Homo sapiens: one gene and its partners. The protein of the gene in region 1 interacts with the protein of each later gene in a pairwise test. Each region holds a gene or a part of one and is shown in the gene's direction. Other genes may lie near its edges.

The links. The genes of interacting proteins can lie anywhere in the genome.
Region 2: the proteins of SH2D4A (region 1) and FSD2 interact in binary tests that used the Homo sapiens proteins (3 or more experiments, as listed by UniProt).
Region 3: the proteins of SH2D4A (region 1) and TRIML2 interact in binary tests that used the Homo sapiens proteins (3 or more experiments, as listed by UniProt).
Region 4: the proteins of SH2D4A (region 1) and RINT1 interact in binary tests that used the Homo sapiens proteins (3 or more experiments, as listed by UniProt).

What each region holds. Positions count from the first base shown.
Region 1 is NC_000008.11:19,361,317-19,366,786, forward strand, and holds part of SH2D4A (SH2 domain-containing protein 4A), read left to right. Parts: intron 1-2,755; coding exon 2,756-2,966; intron 2,967-5,470. UniProt on the Homo sapiens protein: Inhibits estrogen-induced cell proliferation by competing with PLCG for binding to ESR1, blocking the effect of estrogen on PLCG and repressing estrogen-induced proliferation. May play a role in T-cell development and function.
Region 2 is NC_000015.10:82,757,966-82,761,817, reverse strand, and holds part of FSD2 (fibronectin type III and SPRY domain-containing protein 2), read left to right. Parts: intron 1-2,217; coding exon 2,218-2,470; 3' UTR 2,471-3,852.
Region 3 is NC_000004.12:188,106,804-188,111,836, reverse strand, and holds the start of TRIML2 (probable E3 ubiquitin-protein ligase TRIML2), read left to right. Parts: upstream 1-2,233; 5' UTR 2,234-2,594; intron 2,595-5,033.
Region 4 is NC_000007.14:105,564,941-105,568,177, forward strand, and holds the end of RINT1 (RAD50-interacting protein 1), read left to right. Parts: intron 1-183; exon of another isoform or gene 184-336; coding exon 337-517; exon of another isoform or gene 518-589; coding exon 590-708; intron 709-1,382; exon of another isoform or gene 1,383-2,178; coding exon 2,179-2,371; 3' UTR 2,372-2,513; coding exon of another isoform or gene 2,514-2,550; 3' UTR 2,551-2,737; downstream 2,738-3,237. Other genes in the region: EFCAB10 (EF-hand calcium-binding domain-containing protein 10), read right to left, coding at 609-675, 2,527-2,550. UniProt on the Homo sapiens protein: Involved in regulation of membrane traffic between the Golgi and the endoplasmic reticulum (ER); the function is proposed to depend on its association in the NRZ complex which is believed to play a role in SNARE assembly at the ER.

The sequences.
Region 1 (5,470 bases):
GAGTACCCAGAGGTCTCCATAGCACCTTCCAGGCTCTCAGCTGATTCTCTCCCTTAATAATGTGATCAATCTAGAAAGCGCTTAATGTGGGTTGTTGAGAGATATGTTCACAGTAAGTTACCACTCAAATGTTATTACTAACTTATTACTCAAATGCTTACAGGCTACTTTTGAACAGCAGACTCGTTCTCCATTTATTTCTGTATCACCAAAATTATGATGTAATTTATCAAATAGCATGATATATAGCTATGGAAAATAGGTTTTGGAGAGTGTTTAATGATCTTAGACTGTTTATATCTCATTAGCTTGGGGAAGAAAAAACACCATGAAATAGAATGAAAAGCTTCGCTATTTAGAAATGTCTAAGTATCTGAAGGAAAAGAACTGGAAGGTTATAATAACATGTAAACATTAGTTTTCTTGGAAAGGTGAGATTCAAGATTATTTATTTGAATGTTTTTCTTGTAATTTAATATTGTGTTTTGGATTTTTTTTCCCCTAAATTTTTGATAGTGAATACATTTTAACTTTGTAATCAGAAGCACACAGGAATACCAGGCTGGATGTGTTAGCATCCCGCTCCTGCCTGTGACCCAGCCTTGACTCCTATTTGAGTGAGCAGAATGGGTGAGAAAACTCATAGGAGAAGAATAAGCCCATGCAACTGAAGGCAGAGGAGAGGATGCTCCAGAATGCTAGAAGAATTAGGTTTGTGAAAGAATTAGTGTTTCCATCTGACTCAGAGAAATCTGAACTGCTAGATCAACCTGAGGTGGCTTGAGGAAGACAGCAGGTATGGCTATATTTGCAGGATGTTGAGATCCTACATTGATCTGCAGTCCCATTACAACCAATGCCATTTAAATGACAACTACTGTGAAATGAAAATATTTGCAAGATCCAGTAGGCTCTTTGTACTATGCACTGAAATCCTAGCATAAGGGAATATTTTGGGTGTCTCTTTGAAGTCAAGTATAACAGGATTTGACCAATACTGCCTGAAGTGTAAATATAGTCAATAAAAATCATTTTTACATTCTGCATTTGAGTCTCATTGCTATAACAAAAAATTCTGTTTTACAAAGTAGTCATGCGCTGTATGATGTTTTGGTCAACGATGGGTCGCATATAGTTTTTAGGCCAGGCACTGTGTCTCACTCCTGTAATCCCAGCCTTTTGGGAGGCCAAGGTGGGTGGATCACTTCAGGTCATGAGTTCAAGACCAGCCTGGCCAACATGGTGAAACTCCATCTCTACTAAAAATACAAAAATTAGCTGGTTGTGGTGGCGTACACCTGTAGTCCCAGCTACTCAGGAGGCTGAGGCAGGAGAATTGCTTGAACCAGGGAGGCGGAGGTTGCAGTGAGCCGAGATCGTACCACTGCACTTCAGCCTGGGCAATGTAGCAAGACTGAGTCTCAAAAACAAAACAAAACAAAACAAAAAAAACACAGACACACACATACAGAAAACCAAAAAATAATAATAAAACCCCAAAATAATGGGTTGCATACATTTTTAAAATAAATTTTATAAATGTAGTGTAGCCTAAGTGTAAAGTGTTTACAAAGTCAACATCAGTGTGTAGTAATGTCCTAGGTCTTAACATTCACTGAGCACTCACTCACTGACTCATCCCAGAGCAACTTCCAGTCCTGCAAGCTCCATTCATGGTAAGTGCCTTATGTAGAGGCACCATTTTTTTTTGTCCTCTATACCATATTTTTACTATACCTTTGCTATGTTGGGGGTATTGATTATTTTTATTTTTTTGAGATGGAGTTTCGCTCTTGTCACCCAGGCTGGAGTGCGATGGTGTGATCTCAGTTCACTGCAACCTCCGCCTCCTGGTTTCAAGGGATTCTCCCGCCTCAGCCTCCCCAGTAGCTAGGATTACAGGCGCCTGCCACCATGCTCAGCTAATTTTTTGTATTTGTAGTAGAGTTGGGGTTTCACCATGTTGGCCAGGCTAGTCTCAAGCTCCTGACCTCAGGTGACCCACCGACCTTGGCCTCTCAAAGTGCAGGTATTACAGGTATGAGCCACTGTGCCCGGCCTTATGTTGGGGGTATTTAGACACACAAATACTCTTGTGTTACAGTTGCCTTATGATGCATTTCTCAGGATTTATTTCTCTCATTAAGTCACTAGTGACTGTAATATTAAAAGGCAGACTTGGGGTACTTTTTTGTGTACTAATGTGTCCTACAATTACCTGTGGTTAAGCATCCCTTTAATTTTTTGTCTGTCAGGTTGCTTCTCATTCTGTCCTGCTCTCTGCTCCTTCACCCTATGCACAGCCCCATGCCACTGAGTAGTCCTGATCTCTGCTAGTGAGTCAAGCACACTGCATCTGAACATAAGTCATGCAGGGCGTGACAATTGCCTCTTATTACTCAGCACCCCTGCCAGCTTGAACCCATGCTCAGGCGGGGGATCCTCACTTGGTCTTGCCAACTGCAGGAAATTCTTGCACACTTTCTCTACTTCTCTCTCATCCCTTCTTCCTCCTCTTCCTTTTCTCTCCCTCTCAGAAAACCCCCAGTCCTGTATGAAGAGAGGAATCCTGCAGCGAACGCTGGGCAAGCCCTAATGGCCTGGATCATAGGTGTTGATAATGATTGTTCCTTATTATAAGCAGACAACAAACTGCTGAGAACCTGCGCTGCTGCCCGTTGTGCAATGAATGCTGAGCCTTCTCACCTGCTCTGTGGGCTGATGAGGGTTTTCTCCGACCCCGTTGTTTTTCCAGTGCGAAAATCCAAAGCAGCTGATGAGAAGAGACGCTCCTTGGCTAAACAAGCACGAGAAGACTACAAGAGGTTATCCCTCGGGGCCCAGAAAGGAAGAGGCGGTGAGAGGCTGCAAAGCCCCTTGCGTGTTCCGCAGAAACCAGAAAGACCTCCCCTTCCACCCAAGCCTCAGTTCCTAAACTCAGGGGCATATCCTCAAAAACCTCTTAGGTAAGAAGCCACACAGATGGGTTTATGCATAAACATTGCAATGGGCTTTGAATAAGCGTTGAAATTAAAGGGGAATTGTATGAGCTGCCATGGGGTGTGGAGGGCCAACTGGCAGCCTGTGTAAGTAGCTCAGGTTCATGTCTAAGCCTTCTTCCTGGGTGATCTGGGCGGGCATTCCTCCCTTTTTTAGCTGTCAAATGTCCATAGCTGTTATACTTAGTATACCCAGTGAAATAGTAAAGCTGTGCATGGAATGAGAGAACTTCCCGTGTCCCTACCCCACTCTCCCCTTTCCCTCCCCCGCCCCCCTCCCCCCCAGAGGCAGCCGGTGAGCCAGTGAGGGGAGAAGAGGAAACAAGTGGGGTTTCACTGATGCCCAAGATCACCCTTAGTCAAAGATTATCAAAGTAGGAACCCAAAGGCTTGCTGACTTTCGTGTGATCAGTGGGAGTACATTTTCACTGCCAAGGATTAAAGGTTTGATGGTAATTCTCATTCACGGATACATAGCCAAGTTCCTCTTTTAAGAATTTGGAAAGCCTCCTTTTTTAGATGAATTGTCTATTTGGTGGTGGAGATACCATTGTCTGCTAGGCTGTGGAAGAATTAGGAAGAACCATTTGTTCTGGAAAAACTGTAGAAAAGTGCAATGATGCTATTAAACCCCCATCCCTTATGTTTGCTGATTCTAAATTTTTTTCTGGTTATTGATCTTATTTTTAACATCCTAGTATTTAGAAAGAAGTATTAAAATCAAATGTTGATTGAAAGAAACAGAATTGTCTAAAGCCTTGCATTCTGAAATAAAAACTAAAAATAATTTGAAATACTTCTCTAAGATTATGGAGAAATGAAAAATAAGACTCTTCTCCTGCTTGGAGTCGTAGTTATCTTCAAGGTTGTCTTTAAACAGGAGTGATGACCTCAGGGGAAACACAAAGGCGGATGTTTTTCTTTGCTGTAATTATTTCTACTTACTCTACTGGAAAGTTCCGTTTCGGGAAGTGGGGACCAACGTGGAACTCAGTGGAGTAAGTGGAAATAATTACAGTAAAGACCATGATCTCCAAAGTGATCGTTTGGGTAATGATTCTTCTCTTACCGACAACAAAGCAAGAAATGTAGTCAGGAAATAGGAGTCTCTTAATTGTGAGAACAGCTGACAAAGGTGCACACGGCTCTAAGTGCTGGAGCTTGTCTGTCCGCACGTTGGCGACAGAGCCTCAGCAGGGATGTTTTTGCAGCTAACTCCTGTTCACCGTCTCTTCCAAAGGTAGCATGGAAATGACTTGTAGATGTCCCTGTCCCACAGCATTTTGAAGGACAGTATATTTGATTGACAGCAATGAAGGTGGTCTTTAAAAAAGGGCAATTCCTATTTTCAGCTGTGCTCAGTTAGCTCATTTTTTCCAACTGAAGACACTGCATGAAGTGCTTTTTGTGAGTCAGACTGGGTGGTTTTAGGGCTGGGACTTGACACAGGGATGGCAGAGGTCACCTCAGAGCCACCCCAGGAAAAGACAGACCGGCTCCTACAGTGTCTGTGGAGTTTTGCTCGATCTCCAAGGACTTCCCAAAAAAGAGCCTAATTTGGAAGCTAGTAAGAGAATGTATAATATAACTTCGTATGTGTGCAGTGTCTGCCTCCCAGGGAAGTAAATATTATAGGATATTTTCTCGAAAATGCTCCGAAAATCATTAGGGATAATATATACACATACATGCATATGTACAACTATATATATATATATCTGACAGTATGTCACACGTAACTCAGAAGCACATGTTATAAAAAGCGTAAAGAACCATAAGTTGGTCAATTACAATACTAGTAGTTCATCGAAACTTGATTGTGGTGGTTGTGTTTCATAAATTGTATTTTGTTTTTAATTGACACAATAATTGTATGTATTTATGGGATACAGTGTGATGTTTTGATACATATATATATATTGTGTAGTGATCAAATCAGTATAACTCACATATGAATCACCTCAAACACTTGTCATTTCTTTGTGGTGAGAACATTCAAAATCCTATCTTTTGGCTGTTTTGAAGTATGTAGTACATTACTGTTGACTGTGGTTACCGTGCTGTGCAGTAGAGCAGCAGAACTTATTTCTGCTGTCTCACTGTAACTGCGCCAGTTGACCAACCTCTCCCTATTTACCATCCCCCCTACTCTCCCCAGCCTCTGCTAACCACTGTTCCATACTTCTATAAGATCAACCTGGCTGGGTGTGGTGGCTTATGCCTGCAATCCCAGCACTTTGAGAGGCCGAGGTGGGTGGATCATGAGGTCAGGAGTTCGAGACCAGCCCGACCAACATGGTGAAACCCCGTATTTACTAAAAATACAAAAATAAGCCTGGTGTGGCGTGCACCTGTAATTCCAGCTACACTGGAGGCTGAGGCAGGAGAATCACTTGAACCCAGGAGGCGAAGGCTGTTGTGAGCCAAGATCACACCACTGCACTCCAGCCTGGATGACAGAGTGAGACTCT
Region 2 (3,852 bases), on another chromosome or scaffold:
AATGCTGGGTGCAGTGGTGTGCACCTGTAGTCCCAGCTACTCAGGAGAGTGAGGTAGGAGTATTGTTTGAGCCCTGGACTTCAAAGCCAGCTTGGGCAACATAGCAAGACCCCGTCTCTAAAAAAAAAAAAATAATAAAATAAAAAAATAAAATAAAATAAAAGAATAAAAATAAGAAGACCACACCTCACAGCAATTAGATAATCCAAACGACATGGATTTGGAACTTGGATTCAAACTCAAGCAGTCTGGTTCCAAAGATTTCATTCCTAACCACTTAAGTGATAGATTTTTCATTTCTGTTCACCTTTAGTATTAAGCCAATACAGTTTGCTTTGAAGCCCCAGTTCCATCTTTTTAAGTAAATGTGGGCAAGAGGCTTAGTAGTTATGGCTAATTCTGGTTTGCTCCTGCTGCTGGGCACTCTGTCTTTACACATGGAGTAGTTCCATATAGTGGGAAAAAAAGTCTCACGAAGCCCAGGCCAATGAATACACTTTCAGACTTAGAAGGCCATGGTTACAACCTTCCTTCACCTCAAAAACTGAAAAACAAGACCCCACACTGCTTTCCTATCACACCTTGTAAAATGGGGCCTCTGACCCTCCTTGATTTGATGAATCCTATTAATGTTCATCCAATGCTCTCTGCCCATGATCCTCTATCATGGTTATTTACACATTATGTGTCATGCCCAAGCATAAGTGGGAAAACCAACTTCCCCTCCGATAACAGATGAAGACTCTAATGAAATCTACTAAACCTCACACCCAGTTTGGGGAATCCAAGAATTACTATACACTGAGGCAGATACTTTATTTGGGGATTCTGCCTGAAGTAAGACTAAAGAGCAAAGTCTCTTCTTTAGAAAGGCAAGAACAAGGGGCAGAGTAAAACTAAGGGAGCATAAAGAAAGCCTAGAAGTCCACGTGTAGAGGGAAGAATAAAGGGGGTAAGAAGACACAATAGAAGAGGGGTGGAAACAGAAGAATGACAAAAGAAGGGCAAAAGCTACAGTCCAAGTGCTAGAGCCAAGCCAGTTTCTTACAGATGTAGGGTGTGTGTGTGTGTGTGTGTGCGTGCACGCACACACGTGCACACACGTTACAAGTGGAGAATGAAGGTAAGGTATCCTAGGATAAGGTCTCCTAGCAGACTTGCATTTTTGGCTCATAGTATTAGACTTTATTGGTGGTAGCATAGAAAGTAGAAGAAACGACTCATAGCTTCTGGCAGCTGCTTAGTTAAATTAAGGTGAAATGGGCTAGAGACAGGCAGGCTTCCTCTGACACGTTTAGATCATATTCCAAGTGTTTATCCCAGTAGCCTAGACTAGCCTGTTGACACAAAGAGCTCTTCAAATATCTGTAGGTAGCAGGGTTAGGAAATTCCTGTGACAGGTTTTCATTTCTGCCATTTTTCAAAGTACACAGGATGTAGAGCATGGATAGTGATATAGTATTGATTGGTAACAGGCCCACTGGCTCCCCACTCAATATGAAAGTTTAAGAACTGGAGTAACTGTGCATAGAAGAGCTTATACCAAGAAGCCCATTTTATCACATGGAAAATCACAAGGTTCCCTGTTTCAAATGTCTAATCCAAATTTTAAAAACATGTTCTATTCCTATGCTAGTTTAGATGAAAGAGAGTTCAGGATGCTATAGGTAAATTTCTTAGGTTAAGAGGTTGCTAGAGAAAAAATGATGTTTGAAAAATGTTTCGGCCAGAAGCAGTGGCTCACACTTGTAATCCCAGCACTTTGGGAGGCCAAGGCAAGTGGACTGCCTGAGCTCAGGAGTTCGAGACCAGCCTGGGCAACACAGTGAAACCCTGTCTCTACTAAAAATACAAAAATTAGCCGGGCTTGGTGGTGCACGCCTGTAATCCCAGCTACTCAGGAGGCTAAGGTGGGAGAATTGCTTGAACCCAGGAGGCTGAGGTTGCAGTGAGCCGAGATTGCACCACTGCACTCCAGCCTGGGTGACAGAGCAAGACTCCATCTAAAAAAAAAAAAGAAAATGTTTCTTAGGACAAATTTTAGAAAAGAGATAGTTTAGAGAGTATAGTTTTAGAAATGGCTTGTCACCTTGGTAGTCATTTAATACTAGAAAATAGCAAAATCATAGGACTATGAATAAAATTAGTATGAAATGTTCTATAAATAGTCAATCTATAGAATTACTGAAACTTTATTATGTCAAATTTAATTTTCAGGCATAAGTATGAATTTCTGCACAACAGAACAACTCCAGATATAAGAATAACAGTTCCACCAAAGAAGATTGGCATTCTATTAGACTATGAACATTCAAAGTTGTCATTTTTCAATGTGGACCTTTCTCAGCATCTATATACATTTAGTTGTCAGCTTCACGAATTTGTGCATCCCTGTTTTTCTTTGGAAAAGCCTGGGTGTCTAAAGGTACATAATGGCATTTCAATGCCAAAACATGTCACTTTCTATTAGAACATTCTGATGTCCAGTTTCCTGTCTTCCATGCCTACCCCTCTCGCAGCTGCTCACGCCTTAGCTGGCTGAACCTGGCACTTAAGCACCATGTGCCCAGCACAATTTATGGCTCATGCTATTATCTGACTGGTGTGCTAGCGCTCATTTCACCCAACCTGGATTCTAGTCCTGTGTGCTGCTACCTGTGTGCTGCTAGGATAGTCATTACCAGGCCCAGCTGTAAAATAAAGGCTCAGACTAAACGAACTCAAAAGTCTTTGAAGCTGTCAAACTATATTCGTGTATATGCAAAATATCTTGAGTTTCCAAGACCTAGAGAGCTTGGGAGAGGACGAGGGTAGTCTTAATGGCTCCAGCAGCACCAGTACACCCATGCATTTCATGAGTCAGCCAAGAATACACTTGAGAAGGCGAGAGGCTGTCTGTAGAGAACCAGGGAAGCTGTGTGCCCTTCTCAATGTCTTCTACCCTCGTTTTCCCAATAGTGAGCAGCACTGTGGTGAGGTCCCTTCCACTGTGTACTCTGCATACAGGGTATTCCCTGTTCCACTCCTACACAGTATGCACCACTCTCTAATTTTGAAATTACCTCTATAATGCCTAATTCCATGAAGGGAGGGACAGTGCCTGTTTTGTTCATTGCTAGATCACCAAGGGCTAACACATAACAGCTGTCACCAAGTATTTGTTGAATAAATTAGTATCTTCTTCAGCCACTGCTCTTTGGCCTCTTACTGCTCTCCATGTGAAGGATGGCAGGGCTCTTTCAAAACTACAGCAAAGGACCTATGGCCAAGAAATGGGAAAAAACCTAGAATGGAGGCAGCGTGAAAGAACAGAAGGGCATCTGTGGCATATTAGCAAATGCACAACAATTTTTTAAAAGAAATTAACAGCCCACCAAAGGGCAAAGCTGAGCACGGGAAGGAAGACTGATCTCTAGCTAGGCAGCTTTCAGGCATCCTGCCTCACTGCCCCCAGGCCATTCTGTGAGCTCAATGCCCAACTCCATCAGCTACATTCCTGGTTCTCCTGTTCAAGTTTCCAGTTGCCACTTAAGCTCTGCACACACAGCATTTTCAAAGCTTGTGAGTGAAGCTGCAGAATAATTCCATTTGTGAAGCAATTACAATTCAGTATCATGTCCCACAGATGCCTCTAAACCCAGATATGCCCTAATCTCATCATTTAAGGTTTTGTGTTTAAAAAAAAAAAGTCCACTTTTCTTTTTTCTGGCGAAACCCCGTCTCTACTAAAAATACAAAAAATTAGCCGGGCATGGTGGTGGGCGCCTGTAATCCCAGCTACTCAGGAGGCTGAGGCAGGAGAATTGCTTGAACCCGGGGGCAGAGGCTGCAGTGAGCCGAGATTGTGCCACT
Region 3 (5,033 bases), on another chromosome or scaffold:
CTCCTGGGTTCAAGCAATTTCCGGCTAATTTTTGTATTTTTAGTAGAGATGAGGTTTCCCATGTTGGCCAGGCTGGTCTCGAACTCCTGACCTCAAGTGATCCACCCGCCTCGGTCACCCAAAGTGCTGGGGATACAGGCATGAGCCAGAGTGCCCGGCTGGGATACGACTGTTATAAGTTCATGAAATGACTCAGGAGAACAATGACTCACTCATTCATAATTGTATTTGTTCTTTGACAGTGAAAAAAAACTACATTTCTTCAGGATTTTCATTTTAATGAAAAGTTTTCCTATGAAAAATCTAACTACCTTAAAATGATCTGTGTTCCTTGTAATGTGATTACTCTAGCCCTATGAAAGCATCTCGTGATAAATTGTCATACAAATTTGAGGCATCTTTTTTGTAAATTGTCAAGCCATTTGATTAATATTTAATAAGGACAAATAATTATAATAAGGAAATATCATGAAATTTGGCACCCGATTCAAATTCCATATCTTCAATTTTCTGCACCCAGTGCTCTTGGTCAATTACTTAATCCCGTGACTTAATCTCTACGTCATCTACTTCATCAGCTGCAGATGTACCTCACGGGGTTGGAGCATGCAACAGGTGGGGCATGTAACAGTAAATAAGGGTTTAGCACACTTTTTTGTAATGTTTTTAGAATTATCTTAAAATATTGACTCTTCTAGAATTAATAATTTAATTATTAATAAATATTTATTTAATAGTAAAACAGGCTTTAATAAGTATTTATTTAAGCATTTAATACTCTAAAACAGGCTTTAAGAGACTTCAAAACCTGACAATATGCTTGATGTTTATTTTCCATTTGATTCAAAGATTACAAAGTTTTCTTGTCAAGATGAGTAAGCTCAAGAGTTATGAAAGCTCAAGGGATGGTGAGAGTAAATGACAGAGTATCTGACAACAAGTATGTGTGAGTATCTTCACAGACGTTGGCCGTACCCAGGCTTAGAAGAGAAAGGAAGATTGGATTAGAAAAATAAGAGAAGTAAAGGAGGATGGACTGGCTGAGGAGGGGAGGGGGCACAGGAATAAATGTGGTCTATTTGAAGAAAGCTGGGGAATTGGGTTTTGGAAAAGAGAGTGGGTGTAGGTAATCATCTGAGATAAGAGAAAGGGTGTATGGCCAGGCGCGGTGGCCAGAACTTTTGGAGGCCAAGGAGGGTGGGTCACCTGAGGTCAGGAGTTTGAGACCAGCCTGGCCAACATGGTGAAACCCCATCTCCACTAAAAATACAAAAATTAGCTGGGTGTGGTGGGCGCCTATAATCCCAGCTACTCGGGAGGCTGAAGTGGGAAAATTGCTTGAACCTGGGAGGCGGAGGCTGCAGTGAGCCGAGATCGCTCCACCGCACTCCAGCCTAGGCAACAGAGTGAGACTCTCATCTAAAAAAAAAAAAAAAGAAAGAAAAAAGAAAAAGAGAAACGGTGTATTGAGATTCCATAAGGTAGAACCAGGTTCTGAAAGATCAGATAAGCAAAGCAGAAGAATTCTCATTATCCTGTCAGCAGCATAAAGAAAAAAACTCCCTGGTTTGATTAGCAGGGGATTGACTGACTGATGCAATAAAAACCCTCGGGGACAAAACTATAAAACTTAGAAAGCTGTGAAGAGTTCCTCCTCACTGAAGCCAAATATCAAGTATGAATTATCTGGGATTGTTCCCTGACCTCCCATCTGTGACAGATTCCATAGGCAGTTATCCCTACTCTTGGTTTTTCTTTCCACAGATACTGGAATGAACACTTCTCCAGCAAACGTTCTAGAAACTAACAAGTCAGGCATTATTTTCTACTAAGGAACAAACACAGTCTTGAGTGTTAGCTCGAAGGCTTCTTTCCTGTGAAATTGTCAATATACACTAGATTCATTAAGAAAGAAAACCCCAAACCTTAAGGAGCTAGAGGTGTTAGGCACTGTACATGGCACTGGAGATAAAACAAGATATTTATCCAACCAAGGTCAGGGCTATTAAGCATTTTCTGGGAGTCCATTAAAAATGTAAATTACGGACCCCACCGTAGATTTCTGGAATCAGAGACCCTGTGAAGAGGCTTGCGTTTTAATAAACTCAGGTGGTTCTAATGAGATTAATTGTGTGAATATGATAAGAAACTTCACAGACGCCTTCCTGATGGTGTGAGGGCGGGGCTGAGGGAGGAATTGAACAGATAAAATCTCTTCAGTCTCCACTGTTCCAGCTTTTTCCCTAAAGGAAATACCTTGGTTCGGTGTGGTGACTCATTCCTGTAATCCCAGTACTTTGGGAGGCTGAAGCAGGCAGATTGCTTGAGCCCAGGAGTTCAAGACCAGCCTGGGAAAAATACTGAAACCCCGTCTCTACAAAAAATACAAAAATTAGCCGGGTGTGGTCGTGCAGCGCCTGTAATCCCAGCTACTCAGGAGGTCAAGGTGGGAGAATCACTTGAGCCTGGGAGCTCGAGGCTGTAGTGAGCCGAGATTGCGCCACTGCATTCCAGCCTGGGTGACAGAGCAAGACCCTGTCTCAAAAAAAAAAAAAAAAAAAAAAAAGGAAATACCCAGGATTGCTACAAAGAAAGTAAGTGAGATTTTCTCTATAGATCATTTTCTTAATAATTGTTTCTTTAGATTTCTAAACTTGATCTTAGAATCTATGTGTGTGTGTGTGTATCTGTGTGTTATCAGGAAAAAGCCTGAAGAAAAATATTAGGAAAAACAAAATAAGGGTAGACAACATGCTGGGGACTTAATTCGTCAATTTTCCTTTGCTGTTTCTGTAAAAATATTTAGTCTCTGTCCCTCTCTCATTACACCTTCAATTTTTACTGGTTTAACATAAAATATCGTTTACAATATTTATTGTGCATCGAGTATGTCAGATGTAGACACAGGGCATCTCAAGGACTTAGTTTCTTATGGATGGAGAGTGACCCACAAGTAAACTTGTTCATAGAAAGATAAAATCTTTTCGCTACTAAGAAAATAAAATAAGGAGATGAGTAGTGGGAAGGTATTTCAAATTGAGTAGTGATGGAAAGGTCTCTCTTGGGAAGACATTTGAGCTGAGAACTGAAGAGAAGAAAGAAGAGGCAGCTGGAATTGCAAAAATATGAGAGAAGAGCTCTGTTGGCCACGGAAGGGGGAAGGGCTGTGATGAATTAGAGGCAGCTAGATTGACAGTGATGGGGGAAAGCTATAGAGAGATCAGAAGAAGGCAGGAGGCCAGATTGTATAGGACGGGGTTATTACCCACTTCGATCTTACTCTAATGCCATAGAAAGTGACCACAAACCTGCTCACTTGGTTTTGGTTTTAAAATAGTATTCTGGTGGTTGAGCAGAGAGGAGCTGGAGATGGACGAGGAGGGCAGGACAGAATATAAATTTGGAAAACAATAGTTGAATTGGTGAAAGGAAGGCTTAAACTGTGGCTCTAAAGGAATGAGTTTGGGGGAAGAGAGCCACTGGGTTGAGATCCTGAGCGGCTTTAGATATGTTAATTTTGAGTGCTCCTTAGACATTCTATTGCAAAAATGTTGGGAATTGGGCAGGAGATTGAAATCGGAGAATGGAACTTAAATCTTCAGAAACGAGTAAGATTACCTAGGGAGAGACCAGGACTGGGAGACCAGAACTCAACCTTGAAGCACCCCAAGATTGAGAGGTTCAGAGGATGTGGGACCAGAAAAGGCCACGGAGAACAAGACCAGACAAGTTAGAGGAATGTCAGCTGCAGACAGATGAGAGAAGAAAACATTCTAGGAAGAAGGGTGTGGTCAGCTATGTTAACTGCTGCTGAGAGCTCAAGGAAAAATTTGAGTTGGTGAATTTCTTTGTTTTGGTGACTCAGTGGAGTCATCTCGGACATGTTCAGGGACCTAAGACACGGGAAACCAGCAGGGATTTCAAAGACCTAAGCAGAAGAAAGGATGAGAGCATCAAAAACAAGGAAGGAGGGAGAAAGTATTTGCAACTCACACAATTTACAGGAACTTGGATCTATAGCTCTCTCTTAAAATTGACCCCTCCCTCCAAAAAGGCCAAACCTGATGGAATAAACTGAGAGAGAGGCTTGAACATAGACTTCACAGCAAAAGAAGTGAAAATGGTTTTTTAGCATATGAAAATAAAAGGCTTAGACATATTAATAATATAACAGATGGAAGTTGAAAATATATGAATACACTATTTCTCACCCAGCCAGTGGGCAATGATCCAAAAGTTTAACATCTTTTTAATTTGTTGCTTGGAGTGCAAAATTGTACAACTTTTGTGCTTGGGAAACTGACAAAACATATCAAAATTATGGATGCATTCATTCACAGTCCTATTTGTGGGGAATATGCCTTTTCAGGCCAAGATTCTCAACTTTTTGGAATCAGTACTCCTTTGCACTCATTATTGACGAAGATCCCAATAAGCTTTTGTTTATGAGCGTTAATATCTATGTTTACTGTATTAGAAATTTAAAACTGCATTTTATAGTTATTCATTTAAAATAATAAAAACAAGCCAGGCACGGTGGGTCACACCTGTAATCCCAGCACTGAGGCTGAGGCGGGCAGATAACCTGAGGTCAGGAGTTCCAGATCAGTGTGGCCAACACGGTGAAACCCCGTCTCTACTAAAAATACAAAAAATTAGCTGGGTGTGGTTTCACGCGCCTGTAGTCCCAGCTACTCGGGAGGCTGAGGCAGGAGAGTCGGTTGAACCCGGGAGGCGGAGGTTGCAGTGAGCTGAGATCGTGCCACTGTGCTCCAGCCTGGGCGACAGAGATTCGGTCTCAAAAATAAATAAATAAGTTAATAAAATAATAAAAACAAAAACATTTTTCTGAGAAAAAAGTTTTCGAGCTAAGTGGCTTTTTTAATAGAGAAAGCCAGAATTACAAAGGACTTAAGAAGGACATTGGGGCCCTTCTTCTTGCCAAAGATGGGCACAACGTCGACAAAGCGCCGGTGGTACCGCACCCGCGGCTCAGCCCGGCCTGTCTTCTCGCTTGGCCACCTTAGCAAGAG
Region 4 (3,237 bases), on another chromosome or scaffold:
CCAACAGAGCGAGACTCTGTCTCAAAAAAAAAGAAAAACTACATAAATAAAATGCAAAAATTAAGTGACATTTTAAATTGTAATTGCCTTATATCAGTAATTCACATATTAAAATTTGGGGATATTTTGGATATATCCCCATATTAAAGAGTATTTGAGAGTGAAAATATAAATACAGGTACATTTATTTTCTGATAGAGCTTTTAATGTTAGGCTGTATATTTTTTCTTATCCAAAATGCCCTAGGACAGAACACTTCCTCAAATTTAAAATGATTTAAAAACTTGAAAAATAGAAACTGATGAAAATTTTTTGGTAAAAATGTGTTTTTTCCAGATGGTTGTCCTTGCCATCTCAGTCAGAGCAGGCAGTGATGTCCCTGTCCAGTTCGGCTTGCCCGTTGCTGCTGACGTTACGAGACCATTTACTTCAGTTGGAGCAGCAGCTTTGTTTCTCCTTATTTAAAATTTTCTGGCAAATGCTTGTAGAGAAGCTGGATGTATACATCTACCAAGAAGTAAGTAAGAATAGACTGTTTTTGGGCTGTGATAATAAAGACAACTGTTATATGAATTATTCTTTGTTTCAGATAATTCTTGCTAATCACTTCAATGAAGGAGGAGCAGCCCAGCTGCAGTTTGATATGACTCGGAATCTTTTCCCTTTGTTTTCTCACTATTGCAAGAGACCAGAAAATTATTTTAAACAGTAAGCTCAACATTTAACAATTAATATTAATGTATCAAATTGTTACAGGAGGCTAACTCCTTTTAACTTTAGGGTTCTGGAGATGTTTGGGTGGGATAAGATCAGTTGAAATTTTAAAACATTGTCTATCTACTGTATGCTTACAGCACAATGGGGAAACCAAGATGATAGATGTGACCCATGACCTCAAAAAGTTTCAGAACTAGATATAAATTACCTGTTGGGTTTTGTTTTCTAGTATTTGGTTTAATGCTTCTAGTTGCTTAGTTACTGGAGGAATAAATAGAAAATGAAAACAAGTACAGTTGTGCCCTATTCACTAAATATAAGAAATTACAGGGCCGGGCGTGGTGGCTCACGCCTGTAATCCCAACACTTCGGGAGGCTGAGTTGGGCAGATCACAAAGTCAGGAGATCGAGACCATCCTGGCTAACATAGTGATACCCCCATCTCTACTAAAAATACCAAAAAAAAAAAAATTAGCCAGGCCTGGTGGCGGGCACCTGTAGTCCCACCTGCTTGGGAGGCTGAGGCAGGAGAATGATGTGAACCCGGGAGGCGGAGCTTGCAGTGAGCCAAGACTGTCTCAAAAAAAAAAAAAAATTACAAATATGTTTAATACCTAATAGGCCAGGCCTGAAAGAAATTTGTTTCCTTAAACATTTGACATTAATTTTGGTTCTAAATATAATTATAGTTTCAGAATTTGTTGATCTAAAATTTATAGGCCAGGCATAGTAGCCCACATCTGTAATCCCAGTACTTTGGGAGGCAGAGGTGGGAGAATTGCTTGAGGCCAGCTGTTTGAGACCAGCCTGGGCAACATAGCAAGACTCCATCTCTACAGAAAGTATTAAAATGAACAAACAAAAAAAAGCCAGGTGTGGGGGTGTGGACCTGTAGTCCTAGCTACTTGAGAGGCTGAGGCTGTAGTGAGCTATGATCGTGCAGTTTCACTCCAGCCTAGGTGACAGAGCAAGACCATGTCTCAAAAAAAAAAAGTAAAATTTAAATTATGTTTGGGTTTTGTGAGGTTATAAAGCATTCCTTTTAGACTTATAAAATGAAAGCTTATGTTTACACGTTTCATAGGACTGTTTTTAAAATTTATTTTAATGTTCTTTCTGCTGCTTTCATTTATCTCTTATTTTTGTCTTTTCCCATGTTCTAATCTACCTAAAGTTATAGCTATATTTAATATAGTGTTAATATTAAGTATTGTATTTAGGGAAATAACGGATACATATTGAAATAGGGATCGTATTACCTTATAGTAATCTAAAGAAATAGCAACTCTGCACCTGTGTAGTCTTACCATGTTAAAAGAACCAAATAATAAATCCATAAATATTTTTATAGAGAACATGTGGACCAGCAGTGCAGAGAAGCTGTTTAGGATTCTCAAAATTGTAATATAATTGATGCAGATAATGGAGATCTCATTTCCCTCCTTTGTTTTCCCTAAACAGTATAAAAGAAGCCTGTATTGTTTTGAATTTGAACGTCGGTTCTGCACTACTGCTGAAAGATGTACTGCAGTCAGCTTCAGGGCAGCTTCCTGCCACAGCAGCATTAAATGAAGTTGGAATTTACAAACTGGCTCAACAAGATGTTGAGATTCTACTTAATTTGAGGACAAATTGGCCTAATACTGGAAAATAATGTCTTTCAGAAAAAGGTTTCTTTGGTTTTTGTTTCTAAGAAAGAGGAAGCCAATTGGATTTCAAGTTATATGATGAAATTCTGAATTAATGAAACTGGAAAACTTTATAGAATTACTTATTATCTTGGATTTATGGTGTTATTAAAATGCTGACCATATTTCCTTCATCCTCTTGTTCCTAAGGAAACAAAAACAGAAAACGAAACAATGAAAACTCAATTCTATTTACAAGTATAAATGCTGAGTATGTCTGTTGAAGACGAGCAGAGATATTAAATTATAACCAACTTTCAATTTCCTGTGCTAATTAAGGGAAATTCTGTTGTGGATAATCAAACATAGCCAATAAATTTTTTTAAAACTCCCTTTGAATGCATATTTGTAATTGAGGCACCTGTATCTAGTTTGGGAATTAACTGTATTTCCATGAGGAAACTGGCAGGGCACAGTGTCTCATGCCTGTAATCCCAGCACTTTGGGAGGCTGAGGTAGGAGGATTGCTTGAGGCAGGAGTGCGAAAACATCCTGGCCAACATGTCAAGACCCTGATGCATGCCTGTAGTTCTAGCTACTTGGGAGGCTGAGGTGGGAGGCTAGCTTGAGCCCAGGAGGTCAAGACTACAGTGAGCTCTGATTGTGACACGGCACAGCAGCCTGGGCAAGCGAACAAGACCCTGTCTCTAAAGAACAAAACAAAACACATTGTGAGATGGTGAATAAGATAGGATTGTTCTTCATTTCTCACAAATGCCCTTCTATTTTAAATGCTTCCTAGTTTCATTCTGTGTGACAGTGGGCAACCCTTTCTTTCTGGATGAAACATTTCAGGCCATGGCACTCTGACTCAAACATTCCCATGTGGTAG